Linked DNA regions of Homo sapiens. Each later gene encodes a partner of the first gene's protein in a complex. Each region holds a gene or a part of one and is shown on either strand. Other genes may lie near its edges. A codon is read from its position in the direction of its gene.

Evidence for each region.
Region 2: the proteins of FARSA (region 1) and FARSB are in contact, whole or in part, in a crystal structure (PDB 3L4G), measured with the Homo sapiens proteins. Residues at the interface, in NP_004452.1 of Homo sapiens: Ser221, Gly222, His223, Leu224, His225, Leu227, Leu228, Arg231, Ser232, Arg235, Leu239, Gly242, Phe243, Thr244, Glu245, Pro247, Asp249, Asn250, Phe251, Ile252, Glu253, Ser254, Phe263, Gln266, Gln267, Phe277, Phe278, Leu279, Arg280, Asp281; in NP_005678.3 of Homo sapiens: Glu26, Phe29, Gly32, Leu33, Pro68, Ala69, Asn70, Ile150, Arg152, Asp259, Thr261, Lys262, Arg305 (codon at 598), Lys316 (codon at 631), Lys317 (codon at 634), Val318 (codon at 637), Gly319 (codon at 640), Ile359 (codon at 994), His360 (codon at 997), Cys362 (codon at 1,003), Asp363 (codon at 1,006), Glu366 (codon at 1,015), Ala369 (codon at 1,024), Ile370 (codon at 1,027), Tyr374 (codon at 1,039), Asn375 (codon at 1,042), Ile377 (codon at 1,048), Gln378 (codon at 1,051), Met379 (codon at 1,054), Thr380 (codon at 1,057).

Annotation. Positions count from the first base shown.
Region 1 is NC_000019.10:12,930,448-12,938,193, forward strand, and holds the start of FARSA (phenylalanine--tRNA ligase alpha subunit), read right to left. Parts: upstream 3,265-7,746; 5' UTR 3,250-3,264; coding exon 3,103-3,249; intron 2,850-3,102; exon of another isoform or gene 2,702-2,849; intron 2,591-2,701; exon of another isoform or gene 2,523-2,590; intron 303-2,522; coding exon 165-302; intron 100-164; exon of another isoform or gene 81-99; coding exon 1-80.
Region 2 is NC_000002.12:222,618,087-222,625,360, reverse strand, and holds part of FARSB (phenylalanine--tRNA ligase beta subunit), read left to right. Parts: intron 1-585; coding exon 586-647; intron 648-881; coding exon 882-1,089; intron 1,090-1,630; coding exon 1,631-1,711; intron 1,712-5,623; coding exon 5,624-5,716; intron 5,717-7,274.

The DNA.
Region 1 (7,746 bases):
CCGTCAGCCGCACTCTTGTCCACCCGAATCCACTTGTTGGACATGGCCTTGCTGAAGCCCACTTTGCCACTGGGCAGTCGCTGGAAAAGAGAGGCTGCAGTGAGTGGGGCACGAGGGCCACCTTCATCCCATCACTCACTCCCCATTCACCCCGCAGCTCCTACCATAAGCTCGCTCTGGGCCAGGCCCTCTGGGGGAATGCTTCGAAACACACGGGCCTCATGGCTGCCCTCCCGGGCAATCTCCTCGCCCTCCGCAGTAAGCTCCCAGTGCTTGGTGGACCGAAGTTCAGCCTCGATGACCTAGAGGGAAATGTGGGGAGGGTGTCCAGGCAGGGGTGAGGCTCAGAGCCAGGCACCCCCTTTCTGCAGCGCTGGGTCCCAGGTTGAAAGCACAGCCCTTAAAGCTAGGTTCACATCCCAGCTATACAACTTTACAGCCAAGTGGTCTCAAGGGAAAGACTTCCCCTTGCTGTGTCTCCATTTCCCTTATGTAACACAGGGGTAGTAATAATGATAGTTTACACCTCCCAGGGTAAAGTACACCACTAAAGATGTTACCTGGCAGAAGACAAATTCTGTCGGTTTTGAACCTGTGACAGATTTTAATGTGAAAAATTAGGTGAACTGATATGTCTCCACATTTTTTTGTTTGTTTTTGTTTTCTTTGAAAGGGGGTCTCACCCTGTCACTAGGCTGGGTGCAGTGGTGTGATCATAGCTCACTGCAGCCTAGACCTCCTGGGCTCAAGCGATCCTTCCGCCAGTCCCGAGTAGCTGGGACTACAGGCATGTGCCGCCACACCTGGTTAATTTTTAAATTACTTTTTTTTTTTGAGACGGAGTCTTGCACTGTCGCTCAGGCTAGAGTGCAATGGTGCGATCTCGGTTCACTGCAACCTCTGCCTCCCGGGTTCAAATGATTCTCCTGCCTCAGCCTCCCGAGTAGCTCGGATTACAGGTGCCCACCACCACCCCCAGCTAATTTTTGTATTTTTAGTAGAGATGGGGTTTCACCATGTTGGCCAGGCTGGTCTCAAACTCCTGACCTCGTAATCGGCCGACTCCGCCTCCCAAAGTGCTAGGATTACAGGCGTGAGCCGCCGTGCCCGGCCCTTTAAATTACTTTTTAAAGACAGGGTGTTGTTATGTTGTCCAGGCTGGTCTCAAACTCCTGGCCTCAAGTGATTCTCCTTCCTCAGCCTCCCAAAGTGCTGGCATAATGGGCATGAGCCACCATACCCAGCCTGTCTCCATGTTTAAATGTTCACATGTCAGTGCCCAGAATGTCAGAGACGGGCCCTGGAGGTCCACATTACAAACAAAAACTGAGGTTCCAGGTCCAGAGTCATGAAGACAAGGACAACAAGGGTAAGTAGAGTGCACAGGGCCTGGCTCCCACTTCATTCTAATCCCAACTCTGCCCTTCACTTACTGTGTGACCTCAGGAAAGTTGCTTAACCTCTCAGTGACTCTTCTCATCCATAAGAGAAAGGTGTGATGGGTTCTACCTCAGATGATTTTAAGGAGTAGCTAAATTAATACTCAGAAAGAATATATAGTGCCTACCACGTGACAAACACTGCATAAATTTTTTTTTTTTTTTTTTTTGAGACGGAGTCTCGCTCTGTCGCCCAGGCTGGAGTGCGATCTCGGCTCACTGCAACCTCCACCTCCCGATTCAAACAATTCTCTGCCTCAGCCTCCCAAGTAGCTGGGATTACGGGTGCCCACCAACACGCCTGGCTAATTTTTTTTTGTATTTTTAGTAGAGACAGGGTTTCATCATCTTGGCCAGGCTGGTCTTGAACTCCTGACCTCGTGATCCACCCGCCTTGGTCTCCCAAAGTGCTGGGATTACAGGTGTGACCACTGCACCCGGCATAAATTCTAATTACTATAATTATTTTTATGGCTATTACTGTCATTAGATTGAACCTCACCTCCTTATATTATTTAACCCTCTGTGACGTATACAAATGTCAGATCATATTGGTCAAGGCACTGTCACCCCACACAACACAGCTGCCATCTCTCCTCTGCATTGAGGACTATGGGCTCTGCAGCCTGAGTGCCTAATTTCAAATCTGGGCTCATCGGCCTCTTCTATTCACACTGATTATGTTACTGACCATCAGTTGTCACATCTGCAAAATGGGAATAACATGGCCATCAGCCAGGATTATGGAATGGATTGGACAAACAAGCTGAGACCAAAGTGGGGCACAGAACATGAGCTCTACGGATAAACAGCCCAGATCCTGGCCCCATGGATCTAGCCTTCTGGGTGGCCCACGGGCCCCTCAGCATCCTACGCCTGTGACTCTGTCACTGTCCACTTGCCCAAGTCAGAAGGCTGGACTTCATCTGTGCGCCCCCTGCCTTGTCCTGAATCCCACGCCTTCCCCACCTCCCCCAAGCTTCCTTCCCATAGCCAGACATCATGCCCTCCAGCTTGGGGAAGTGCCAGCTTCTTCTTTCATCCCTTCACCTCCAGTCCTGTCCATGCCAATTCTTCCCAAAGGTGATGTGGATAGCACACTCATCTGACCGGCTCTAGCTCCTGCTATCGCTTCCCAGTTCCCTCATGAGGTAAAGACCTAAGAGGCTTTGCAATTACAGCTATGCTGGTCTCCCTTGCCGCCTGCCATCCCCCAAGATCCCGGCCACTGATCTCTAAAGTGCTATCACTTTCCTCAACAGAGAACAGACTCAGCCGTCACCTGCACCAGGCCGCTCTCCCTGACCCCCAAGGCTGGGTCAGCTGTCACAGCTGGGTCCCCTGTTTTCCCCCATCACTCTGGTTCTTGAAGCACCTTCCTATTACGTCGCAACCTGCGTGAGGGCAGCAACCGCGACTTCCTCGTCCATCATCGTACCCTCTACCCACGCTGACCGTGCCTCAATAAACGTTTATTGCATGAGGAACATCCGTGCGTCTGGGCCCTCACTCGTCCCACTTCCCGCCCGCACATCCCGGAGTGGACACATATACAGCTACCCCAAACTAGGCCTGAGGGAATTTGGCTTGGACGTAGAGCGCCCGTGGCAAGGGGACTGTAGGTGCAAGGGCAAGGCGGTCCGGCATCACGGGCCCGGCTCACCTCGCCCAGCGCCTGAAGGCTCTTCACGGCGCCCACCACCGCCTGGTGCTCCATGCCCAGCTCAGCCGCCAACTCGGCGCTGTCCAGGCCGCCATCAGACGCCTCCAGCCGCCGGAGCAGCAGTTCCGCCACCTGACCATCCGCCATGACTCCTTCCAGTGTGCTCAGCGTGTCCGGGCCCGGGTGGGCGGGGGGAGCTGAGCCACCGGAACCGGAACCGGAGTGTGTACCGCCATCTTGAATGTGTCTAACTGTAGAACAGGGCTCAATGTGTCGTCATCTTGAGTGTGGCGACGGAGCCGCAAAAGGTGCATGGGACTCAGTTCCCACCTCCACCCTGGCTCCATCAATGGCGTCTGGTTGACCAGAGGGGTAAAATTGATTATCTCAAGGTCAGAAGCACCGCCCTGTTTTGAGTTTTATCTAGCCTCACTTCGAGCGGGCTGTGTGACCTTGGACTTCCCCGTCTCTGGGTTACAGAACCCTCTGCCCTTCTGGTATTCTCTCTTGCCCTAGGAGAGGCGGTGGGTGGTGGGCTCCAGAGATGGTCATTTTGGCGATGTCAGCTACTTTTAAAATTTCAAAGGAAGGCTGGGTAGGTACCGTCCCTTTTTATAGAGGGAAAAGGAATTCACCTAGTAAGTCAAGGTGGCACCTAACCTGTGTGGACTACCTCGTATGTGGTAGTACTTAGCCCAGAACTGAGTACTTCACGTGTAGTATTTCATTTATCCCCAAAACTTTATGATGTAGATACTGATATAACCGCATTACACATGTGAGAAAACTGAGGCTCAGAGGGTGGTATGACTTGCCCAAGGTTCTACAGAGAGTTGGTGGAAATGAAGTCATAAATTATAAACCTTCCAGATCCTCCCACCCCTGTGCGCTGAGAGTAACGTCAGTGCAAATACTGCATGGCCTAGATTAGCACTGTCCTATAGAAACACAGTGCAAAACATCTTTCTTTTTTGAGACAGGGTCTTGCTCTGTCACCCATGCTGGAGTGCAGTGGTGCAATTATGGCTTACTGCAGCCTTGACTTCCCAGGCTCTAAGGATCCTCCAACCTTAGGCTCCTGAGTAGCTGGAACTGCAGGTGCGCGCCACCACACCCAGCTTTTTTTTTTTTTTTAAGTATGGGTTTTGGCCATGTTGCCCAGGCTGGTCTCAAACTCCTAGGCTCAGGTTATCCTCCTGCATCGGTCTCCCAAAATGCTGGCATTAGAGGCATGACCCACCTCGCCCAGCCAGCCAGACCCTGACTCTTACAAAAAAAAAGATGACTAATAAAATATTTTGCACTCGGCCGGGCACAGTGGCTCACCTCTGTAATCCCAGCACTTTGGGAGGCCGAGGCGGGTGGATCACCTGAGGTCGGGAGTTTGAGACCAGCCTGACCAACATGGAGAAACCCCGTCTCTACTAAAAATACAAAATTAGCAGGGCGTGGTGGCGCATGCCTGTAATCTCAGCTACTTGGGAGGCTGAGGCAGGAGAGTCGCTTGAACCTGGGAGGCAGAGGTTGTGGTGAGCCGAGATCGTGTCATTGCACTCCAGCCTGGGTGACAAGGCGAAACTCCGTCTCAAAAAAAAAAAAATTGCACTTTTTTTCATACTAAATCTTCAAAATCTGATGCGTATTTTACACTTACAACACATCTCAGTTCGGACCAACCACATTTCAAATGGTCAGTAATCACATGTGGGCAGTGGTGACTTACGTCAGCACAGGTAGATTAGAATCCTAGATCTGCTGGCCAGGCTCAGTAATCCCAGCACTTTGGGAGGCTGAGGCGGGTGAATCACCTGAGGTCAGGAGTTCAAGACCAGCTTGGCCAAGATGGCGAAACCCCATCTCCTCTAAAAACACAAAAATTAGCTGGGTGCAGTGGGGGTGCCTGTAATCCCAGCTACACGGGAAGCTGAGGCAGGAGAATCACTTGAGCCTGGTAGGTGGAGCTTGCAGTGAGCAGAGATCGCACCACTGCACTCCAGCCTCGGTGACAGAGCAAGGCTCTGTCTCAAAAAAAAAAAAAAAAAAAAAAAAGAATCCTAGATCTGTTATTTATGTCATTCAACCAGAAGGTGTAGTCTTTCTGTGCCTCAGTTTCTTGCTCACATGGAGGTGATTGGAGCCCAGGTTACTGTGAGAATTAAATGCCCACACATATTCACACTGCTTACTAAATTGAGTGTGGCCCATGTTCGAACACTCTTATAAGCAGAACACATTTATTCCTTTTACATCACAATTATTATTTGAGTCTGTAAAATGGGATTACTCATATCCCCAAATCCTGACCCTATATGAGGTTCTGTATTAAGGATACATTTCTCAAAGTCCCTTCTCTCCTCCCATTTTATGTTGATTATTTATTTATTTATTTAGGGAGTGGGTCTCACTCTATTGCCCAGGCTGGAGTGCAGTGGCATGATCTTGGCTGACTGCAGCCTCCACCTCCTGGGCTCAAGCAATCCTCTCACCTCAGCCTCCCGAGTAGTTGGGACTACAGGTGTGTACCAGCAGGCCAGGCTAATTTGTGTTATGTATATTATATATTATATGCTATATATAATATACATACTATTCATATATTTATGCATTATATGTCATATATAATATATTACATATGTGTACATATATATATTTTGTAAGAATGAGGTTCCACCATGTTGCCCAGGCTGGTTTTGAACTGCCGGGCTCAAACAATCTGCCTGCCTCAGGTTCCCAAGGTGCTAGGATTATAAGTGTGAACTACCATGTCCGGCTTATTTTTATTTATTTTTGAGACAGGGTCTTGCTCTGTAACCCAGGCTAGAGTGTGCAGTGGCAACAACACAGCTCACGGCAGCGTCAACCTCCTGGTCTCAAGTGATCCTCCTGCCTCAGCCTTCTGAGTAGCTGGGAACACAGGCAGGCGCCACCACGCCTGGCAATTAAAAAAAATGTTTTTGTAAAAATGGCCTCCTGCTATGTTGCCCAGGCTGGTCTTGAACTCCTGGCCTTAAGCATTCCTCCCATCTTGGCCTGCCAAAGTGTTGGGATTACAGGCGTGAGCCACTGTGCCCCGTGTGTTTTTAGTTAATTTCCACAAGAGTCCTTCCTTCCTCTCTTCTATCATGCAGCAAGTACTTTTTAAGCCTGTTCTGTGCCAGGTGCTGCAGGTGACACTGGAGGATGCGAAGTGAACAAAACAGGCAGTGTCTAACCTCAAGTAGGAAGCGCCAAGCCCACAGGTGCCTGACACAGGAACAGGAGGAAGGGTCAGCAAGAGGCCTGGGATGGTCCCCGGGATCCTCATGGGGGGGACCAGACTAGGCAATACTGAATACTACCTAGAGGAAGTGGTAGAACCCCAACTTCCCAGTTCATTCTCCCCCGTCTTTTTTTCGAGATGGAGTCTTGCTCTGTCACCTGGGCTGGTGGGCTGGAGTGGAGTGGCGTGATCTTGGCTCACTGCAATCTCTGGCTCCCAGGTTCAAGCGATTCTCCCACCTCAGCCTCCCGAGTACTGGGATTAGAGGCACCCGCCACCACGCCTGGCTAATTTTTATTTATTTATTTATTTTTATTTTTAGTGGAGATGGGTTTTCACCTTGTTGGCCAGGCTGGTCTCGAACTGACCTAAAATGATCTGCCCGCCTCGGCCTCCCCAAGTGCTGGGTTTACAGGCGTGAGCCACTGCGCCCGGCCACCATTTCTTTTTTTTTTTTTTAACCAGAGACCCTTGCCAAGTCATTCCCCCCACTCCACTTTATTTTCCTTTTCATTTTTTCCTTCCTCTCTTTTCTGAGTCACAACCATTAGCCAGGAAGCACCCCCTCCCCACCCTCTTTCCTGGATCCCCCTCATTCCCTCCTTCCATAGTCCACTCCCGCGCTCCCAGGTCCAGGGCTTATTTGCCCAGAGTTTGGAAAACCCCCAGCTCTCCTTCCTCCTTTCTACAGCGTGGGGGCAGGGTACTGGTGCCAGTCACGTGCCTCTGGCTTCTGAAGAAGACTCTAGACTGGGGTCGGGGGGTGGGTCCTGCCCATCTCCCTAGCATCTTATCGTCCCTACCATCTGTGTCTTTTTTCCCTCCCCAAACGGAACCCCCTGCCCTCTCGCCTGCCTATAGCCGTTTAATTGCAAAAGCCAGGCCGTTTGTGGGAGACCACAGACAGCGACCCCCTTCATTTACCGGTTGAGAGGAGGGTAAAGGGGCGGCTGCAATCTGGGTAATAACCCTATCCCCACTCCAGAAGTCACAGTCACATCGTTAAGCCTTCCTCCCCTCTTGTCCCAGGACAGCTTTAAAAACGTTAAAAGCATTTCTGCTGGGTAGCATCTGGCCAGGGTCGCCCCCTCTGTCTGCTCAGGAACGTCTGTCACTTCAGAGAGCTTAAGTGACTTGCCCCGGTCACACAGCAGCAGTCCGATAGGCTGCCAGGGCTCTAGGGGCAGAAGGAGGAGAGGGCTGGCATTCTTCCCACCGGCCCGCGTGACTGTAGCACCGGGGTGCAGCGAAGCCCCAAGGGCCCCAATCCGTGAGCTCTCTCCCATCCCAGGCAGGGGTGGGGGAGCAGCAGTGGGGTGCTGGTTCTCAAATGCAAGATAAGAGCTGGCTAAGAAAGCCTTGCCCAGCCCCTCCACCTAGAGGGA
Region 2 (7,274 bases), on another chromosome or scaffold:
ACATTTCCAAAGGTGTTGAAAAGCCTGGGATTTATGTGTGTGTGTTCTCACCTCACTAATACGGTGGAGTTATATACTGTTTGAAGGAGACTGAGTACCAAATTCATCATTGCATTTCTCCACCTGGAAATGGTAAGAAAGGAATATCTTCATCATGCTCTTAGACTTAGTATGATGGACACTGTGATATTGGAATTACTCTTTCTTGGTCATATCCATCTGCTTGCATAGGACGAGACTGAAAATCTTTAGCAGGATTTATAAACGTCTTTGGAATGATGTAGCACAACAGTGTTTTACTGTGGGGAATGGGGAATGACTATCTGAAAGGGAAAATTGTTTGGCATTTTATATTATTTCCAGGCAGTGCAAACTGTCTAGCAAGTAGAATGTTCATATATGAATCTAATATAGCAAATTTATCCCTCATAATACTGTTTTTGAAACATCAAGTTTATTCTCAATGTGTGGCTCTAATGACAATTTCTTGGGAACGTAATAGAACTGCAATAATGACTAATGGAAAAGACTCTAAAGCTGTATCTGATGGGAAATGATTTACTTTTTAAACTCTTTCTATTTAAGGAATTAGCTTACCGAAAGGAGATGGTGAGAGCTGACCTAATTAACAAAAAAGTTGGAATCAGGTATGCTCTGAAAACTTCACTTAATTCAAGAACAAAGTACACGTATGACTAATTTTTTTTTTGCGATCCTTCAGAGTCTGTTAAGGAATGATAAAACATCAGTTAAGATATCTGGTTTCTGATAGAACTCAAAAAGAAAGGTTACTGTTTCAGCTAGTAGCATATGTTGAAACACAATGTAAACATTAAAAAAATAATCCAATGAAGTTTATGGTTTGTTCATTCCTTTTTCAGAGAAACTCCAGAAAATCTTGCCAAACTTCTGACCAGGATGTATTTAAAATCAGAAGTCATAGGTGATGGGAATCAGATTGAGATTGAAATCCCTCCAACCAGAGCTGACATTATCCATGCATGTGATATTGTAGAAGATGCAGCTATTGCTTATGGATATAACAACATTCAGATGACTCTCCCGAAAACTTACACCATAGCTAATCAAGTAAGATTGCACCCTTAAATAAACACTCCTTATTGTTAGAAACTGATTATTTAATGCCAGGAAGGCTTCGAGAAAACAGAACGTAGGAATCAAGCAGTATTTGGACATGCTCTGCAATGAGAGGCATTTGCTGTGGAGAGGATACAAAACAGATGCCCAAATGATTAGAGTAAGTTGAAAACCTGTGATGACTAGTTCTTTGAAGAAAGACAAGTTTTGAGTTTGGAGCCCTTGTTGAATCTCTCAGAGATTCATTTTCTCAACTTGGGCCTGAAGGCAGAAGCTGTGTGTGGGAGAGATGGAAGTGGGGGTGGTTTGTACATCTGTGTAGGAGCAGAGGGGTGGCAGAGCGGTGGGGAGGGAGGAGGTAATATTGATAGGGAAATAGTGGCATTAGCAGTACGTTAGTAAGGGTGAAAAGGTTTTTAATCTTTTAAACATTTTTATTTAAAAAAGTTTTAATGGCATGTTCTGTATAAATCTCCCTTTTAAAAAACAAGAAATAATTGCGGTGAAATCAAGTGGATGCTTTTTTTTTCAGTTTCCTCTTAATAAGCTCACTGAACTTCTCCGACATGACATGGCAGCCGCTGGCTTCACTGAAGCACTTACCTTTGCCCTGGTATGTCTTACATGCTTTTTCTGCCCAGATGATTATTTACTTAGACTCTCTGAATTATTTATTCTATGATGCTTTATAAGAATTTATAAAATCTAGACTGTTAGAACTTCCAGATTCTGGAAGAATAACTTTGTTACTTGAGATTATACAATTCCTGGTAAAGTAATGTTGAAGCTTTTGTTTTTACAGCCACAAAAGAAAATGAAGGCCTAGAAAAAAATACCTCAAATGAGAGATGACAAAGTATTTTATAGTTTCATGTGAGTGTTGAGAGTTCACAATGTATTTCATAACCAAATTTATTAAGTTAGAATATTTGGTCTTAATTTGGTTATGGCTGTGCCCACTAGATGCCGTCCTGGGTAAAGGCTTGTGGACTGTTCCACATTAAATTAATTTCTTTGTCTTTGAACATGTTCACAAACATTTGCTTTGAGTTGAAAAGCTGACATAAAAGGCCTAAATCAGGAAATGACTTTTATTACAAAATCAGAAGGAAATTTCCCTCCCCCACCAGATTGACCATTTGAAAGAATAAAATGTGTATGCAATTTGTAGTTCCGTTTTTCCCTCTTGCTGAGCATTTCTGTGGTGCCTGCAATGTAGTTCTTGAGCATTCAAGTATGTTTAATCTATGAGGGGAAAGGAAGCTTCTTCTTTTTCTCCCCTGCAACTTAGCCCTACCTCTGAAATTCTCAATATTTTAGAGTATTTAAGGGACTCTACTTCTAGTTTGCTTAATAAATATTAAGCATTAAGATTTTTCTGATTCAGGAGTCATTCATTCAACATTTGTTGAGCATTTATTATATGTCAGGCACTGCACCAATGAGGAAGCCTGAGGCTGAGAGAGGATAAGTACGTAGCACATTTTACACGGACAGCAGGAGAACTGCTGTGTTCCAGGCCACCATACCTGCATGATCTCATTATATCATGAGCAGGGTCCTGACCTTTAGCCTCCTAGAACAGTGCTTTTCCATGGTCTCATACCGTGTACACTAGGTCTGTAATGCCATGTCATTCATCTTTGCACATATATATACACACATTTGTAGTTGTGAGCATCCAGGATTTCATATAAAATGAAGTACCAAAAATAACATTGAAAAATATATTTTTATTTTTTAAAACATATGAGTGTCACAGGAATACATCTTATTTTAAAGGACTCATACTTTAACCATGTAGATTAAACCATAACAGTTCTTTTCCCCACTTCGAATCCTCTTTTCCTCCCCAGAAACAACTGCTGTTAAAACTTGGGTATGCATTTTTCCCTGCCCTTTTATATTAGTGGTGCCAGTTTGAAAAAAGTTACTTATTACTTTATCCTTTTTATACTTATACTTTATACTTATTACAATATCCATTGCCAGTTTGATTTTGTGACCTTAGAGCCTCATGTGTCTTCGAAGGAGCACAGAGGCCGAGTCTTGACTAGTGGCTGCTCTGCAGGGAATGTTTACCCTGTGCCAAGGGCTTTGTGTACATGATTCCATTTCTTCTCAGTATACTCCTGTGAAGTGGGCATTCCTGTCTTTCACAGCAGTTAATTTAAGTAACTTGTCCTACGCCATGGCTGTGGATCAGGGATTCCCGCCCATGCCTGTCTGCATCCAAGGCCTGTGACTGAACTGTCACACCAGGGATGTTAGAAACAGTCTGTTTAGCTGTCCAAAGTCACTTTAATACATTCAATGTTTATCACTGGGGGGAAGAGAAAGGAGTGAGCTCCTAGAGGGTTTCAGATTTGTACTAAATTTTCCTGTAGGAATTTCAACATTAAAGATGTTTATAAAGATGTTTATAGGCAAGCCTAAGCATCGCTGAGCAAAGATGGTCTATGTTGTTAAATCCAGTTTTGCACAAGAGTAACAGCCATTTTTTTAAGCCTAGTCTCTGACTTTCTAAGTGTAAATAATTCACACTTCATCATATTGATTTTTGCTATATCTGCATAGTAGTTGTAATATTTTCTTTTAAATTGGCTCACTTTTAAGTTGGCTTATGTACTTCAGCCTTGTTATAGGAATAATATCTGTAAAAACTATAAGGTTCATTTACTTGTTGTATTTTTCTAACACATTAAAATAAACACATAAATATTAACATTAAAAAAGTTCCTGGCAGGCATGGTGGCTCATGCCTGTAATCCCAGCACTTTGGGAGGCCGAGGCGGGCGGATCACTTGAGGCTACAAGTTCGAGACCAGTGTGGCCAACATGGCAAAACCCCATCTCTACTAAAAATACAAAAATTAGTCGGGTGTGGTGGAGGTTGCAGCAAGCCGAGATTGCACCACTGAACTCCAGTGTGGGCGACAGGGTGAGACTCTGTCTCAAACAAAAAAAAGTTTCTTACTGTGTACTAACTACTGCCACTTCAGGGTAGCTTAATTTAAATTGCCTCTTGTCACTATCCCTTATTATCCATTGCCATGATAAAATACAAGTTCACTCAGATACACAGCTGCGTTGCCATGTGTCTGCAGAGTGTTTTTCTTTTACACAGAGAGGACTAGTTTCATTTGAGAATAGATTGCTTCATGTCAGTTGCATTTCATAATTAATCAGTCACATTATACCTAAGTCTTGCTGTAAAACTTCTTTATGCTGTGGGGAAAACGCTTATCCCCAGTGTGCATGTCACCATTCTCCATCTCAGCAGCTGTAGCAGATCCGGGAGCTGTTTTCTGCTATGGCTGGATGTGGCTTCAGGATCTTTCTCAAGAAAGCATGGCAAGAATCACTAGAACTGACATTGACATGAAATGAATTCTTTTTACCATTTCAGTTGATGTGTATCATTTTGTTTTAATAAGTGAAATACAGGCCAACTAGCCTTTGAAAACTAGTTGTAGAACAGCATAATGAACAATATTGCCTAACATTGGACAATAGTACAATAATCTGATGGTACATCAGTTTTTGTGTTACGTTTTAAATGCTTTTTCAAAAAGCTAGCATTAATATACATGATAATAATTTATCCTTAGTAATGATTTGTCAGTTATCATCATTGTTGGTATTTTTTGAGTGCTTACTCTGTGCCAGGCACCATACTTGCATTATCTCATTATATCATTTATTATTAGACTTGATGTATCTAATCGTCAGTGAGTTTTTAATTTCATAACTTCTGCCTACAATGCTGGTTTCTGAGGGTGGCAAGCATCTTTCTCTTCGATTGGTGGGTACTCAGCAGTTTATTTGTTATGAGTTTCAGGCATGTGCACAGAAGTTAAGTGATACAGTAAAGAACACTGGGCAGAGTTCCAGTCACTTGAATTCTGTTGTCAGTCCTACTGTTCTGCCACAAGTCAGTATGGATTTAGCAAGGGTTATAATGGTAGTCAAAATGGAAAGTCATGAAATACCAAGGAGGGAGAGAAAGTTTCTGACTAGAGTCATTAGGAATATTATGGAAGAGAGGTCATTTAAGTCAGCCTTAGGGAATGGTAGCAGGTGAGGCTGGGAGGACATTTCAGGTAAGGTAGGGAAACATAAGGTTTAGGGAATGGCTAGGGCATCATGGGAGATTAGATTGGAAAGGTAAATGGGAAACTAGCTTAGGAAGGGCCCGAGTACAGTTTATACCATCTCCATGTGAAAAATTTACTTTAGCTCTGTATGATGGCTAGGACTCATTGTGAAAGAAGTATTAATGTTAAATTCCATCTGCTATGGGCCTGAGATTGATGTGTATTTATTGTTAGCTTATTCTTTTTTTGTTTGTTTTTTATTATTATTATTATTACATTTACTTCAGCTCACACCAGGCCTATTCTTAACTTGCTGATATGTGTAGAGAATATAAATTGCTCTTAGAAGTTGACTTACAGCATTACTTTTTATTTTAAACTTAAGTAATTGCTTTTCCATATTAATCTGTTTTGTGTGTACTTCACAGTGCTCCCAAGAAGATATTGCTGATAAACTAGGTGTGGATATCTCTGCAACAAAGGCAGTCCACATAAGTAATCCTAAAACAGCTGAATTTCAGGTAAGAATTTTAAGTAGGTGAGAATTCATGTAAAAACCTAGAGGTAGTACATGAGTTAGGAAAAGTCTCTTCAGTTATTATACCTGAGATGGTGAAATCTTAGAGCTTTTTAATAATATCTTCTTGGGTAAGTTTATAGTTGGTTATTACGTGCTTTGCTGCCAAAAATTCTTTACACTTTTAAAAATAATATCTTCTTGATTAACTTCATACTGGGTTCTTACTTGCTTTGTATTATCTGGCCCAATCTCTCTTGTCTGAACTTTCCATTTCATAATTGATTTTTTAATACTATTTTCAGATTTCATTTTTTTTTTTTTTTTTTAATTTTTATTTTTTGGGACAGAGTCTTGCCCTGTTGCTCAGGCTGGAGTGCAGTGGCACGATCTCGGCTCACTGCAACCTCTGCCTCCTGGGTTCAAGCGATTCTGCTGCCTCAGCCTCCCAAGTAGTTGGGATTACAGGTGCATGCCACGATGCTTGGCTAAATTTTTTTTTTTTTTGAGACAGAGTCTCGCTCTGTCGCCCAGGCTGGAGTGCAGTGGCGGGATCTCGGCTCACTGCAAGCTCCGCCTCCCGGGTTCACGCCATTCTCCTGCCTCAGCCTCCCAAGTAGCTGGGACTACAGGCGCCCGCCACTACGCCCGGCTAATTTTTTGTATTTTTAGTAGAGACGGGGTTTCACCATGTTGGCGAGGCTGGTTCTGAACTCCTGATCTCAAGTGATCCGCAAAGTGACCTCAGCCTCCCAAAGTGCTGGGATTACAGGCATGAGCACCTAGCCAGGTTTCATCTCTTTTCCATTCATTTGTAATAAATGAATCAAAACCTGTTCCCAGTTCCTTCGTAAGTCATTCACTTTGAAATTGCCCATTATATCAGTTCTTGACTGTGCTGCTTATGTCTTTTATTGTAATTGTCTAAGTTTATTGGCAGTTTCATTTAGAGGTTAGGAATATTTAAATGAGAATGATACTGCTTTAATATTGAGTATTAAGTGATTTGTGTTATAGACTAGGATATTAACTATAAAGGGAGGGCATTTTAAGATTATAACATCTTTGCTTATTAATAACTTTAAATAGTTCTCTTTTATACTGATAAGCTCTTGTGCTGTTTCTCTTGCATATGCAAGTCTGTATGTTTTTTAACCTAGATTTTAGAGAAAATCATGTCTTCTTCTAGAATCAAGGGGAATCTTAGAACTGGAAGGTTATATTTTAAAGAAGGTTAATGCTATTATAAATAATATCTGAATTCTGATTTGAAATAGTTTCTTTGGATTTTGGTTTTTACTTCTACAAAAATAAGGGACTGGGTTAGTTCTAAAAAGAATTCTAAAAGTTCTAAAAGTGTTTAAAACTAAATTTAAAAATTCTAAAGTTTATCTATAGAACCACCTGCTAATGTTGTAGATTAGAGCTAGACTAATTAAAGAACTAATTGGTAATATATATCAAGTATATGAATTCTTTATCTATACTTAGGGTCAGAACTTTGAAGAATCCTTATACTAATTTTGGAAGGATTGTAGTAATGAGTTGTTATATTTTATTTT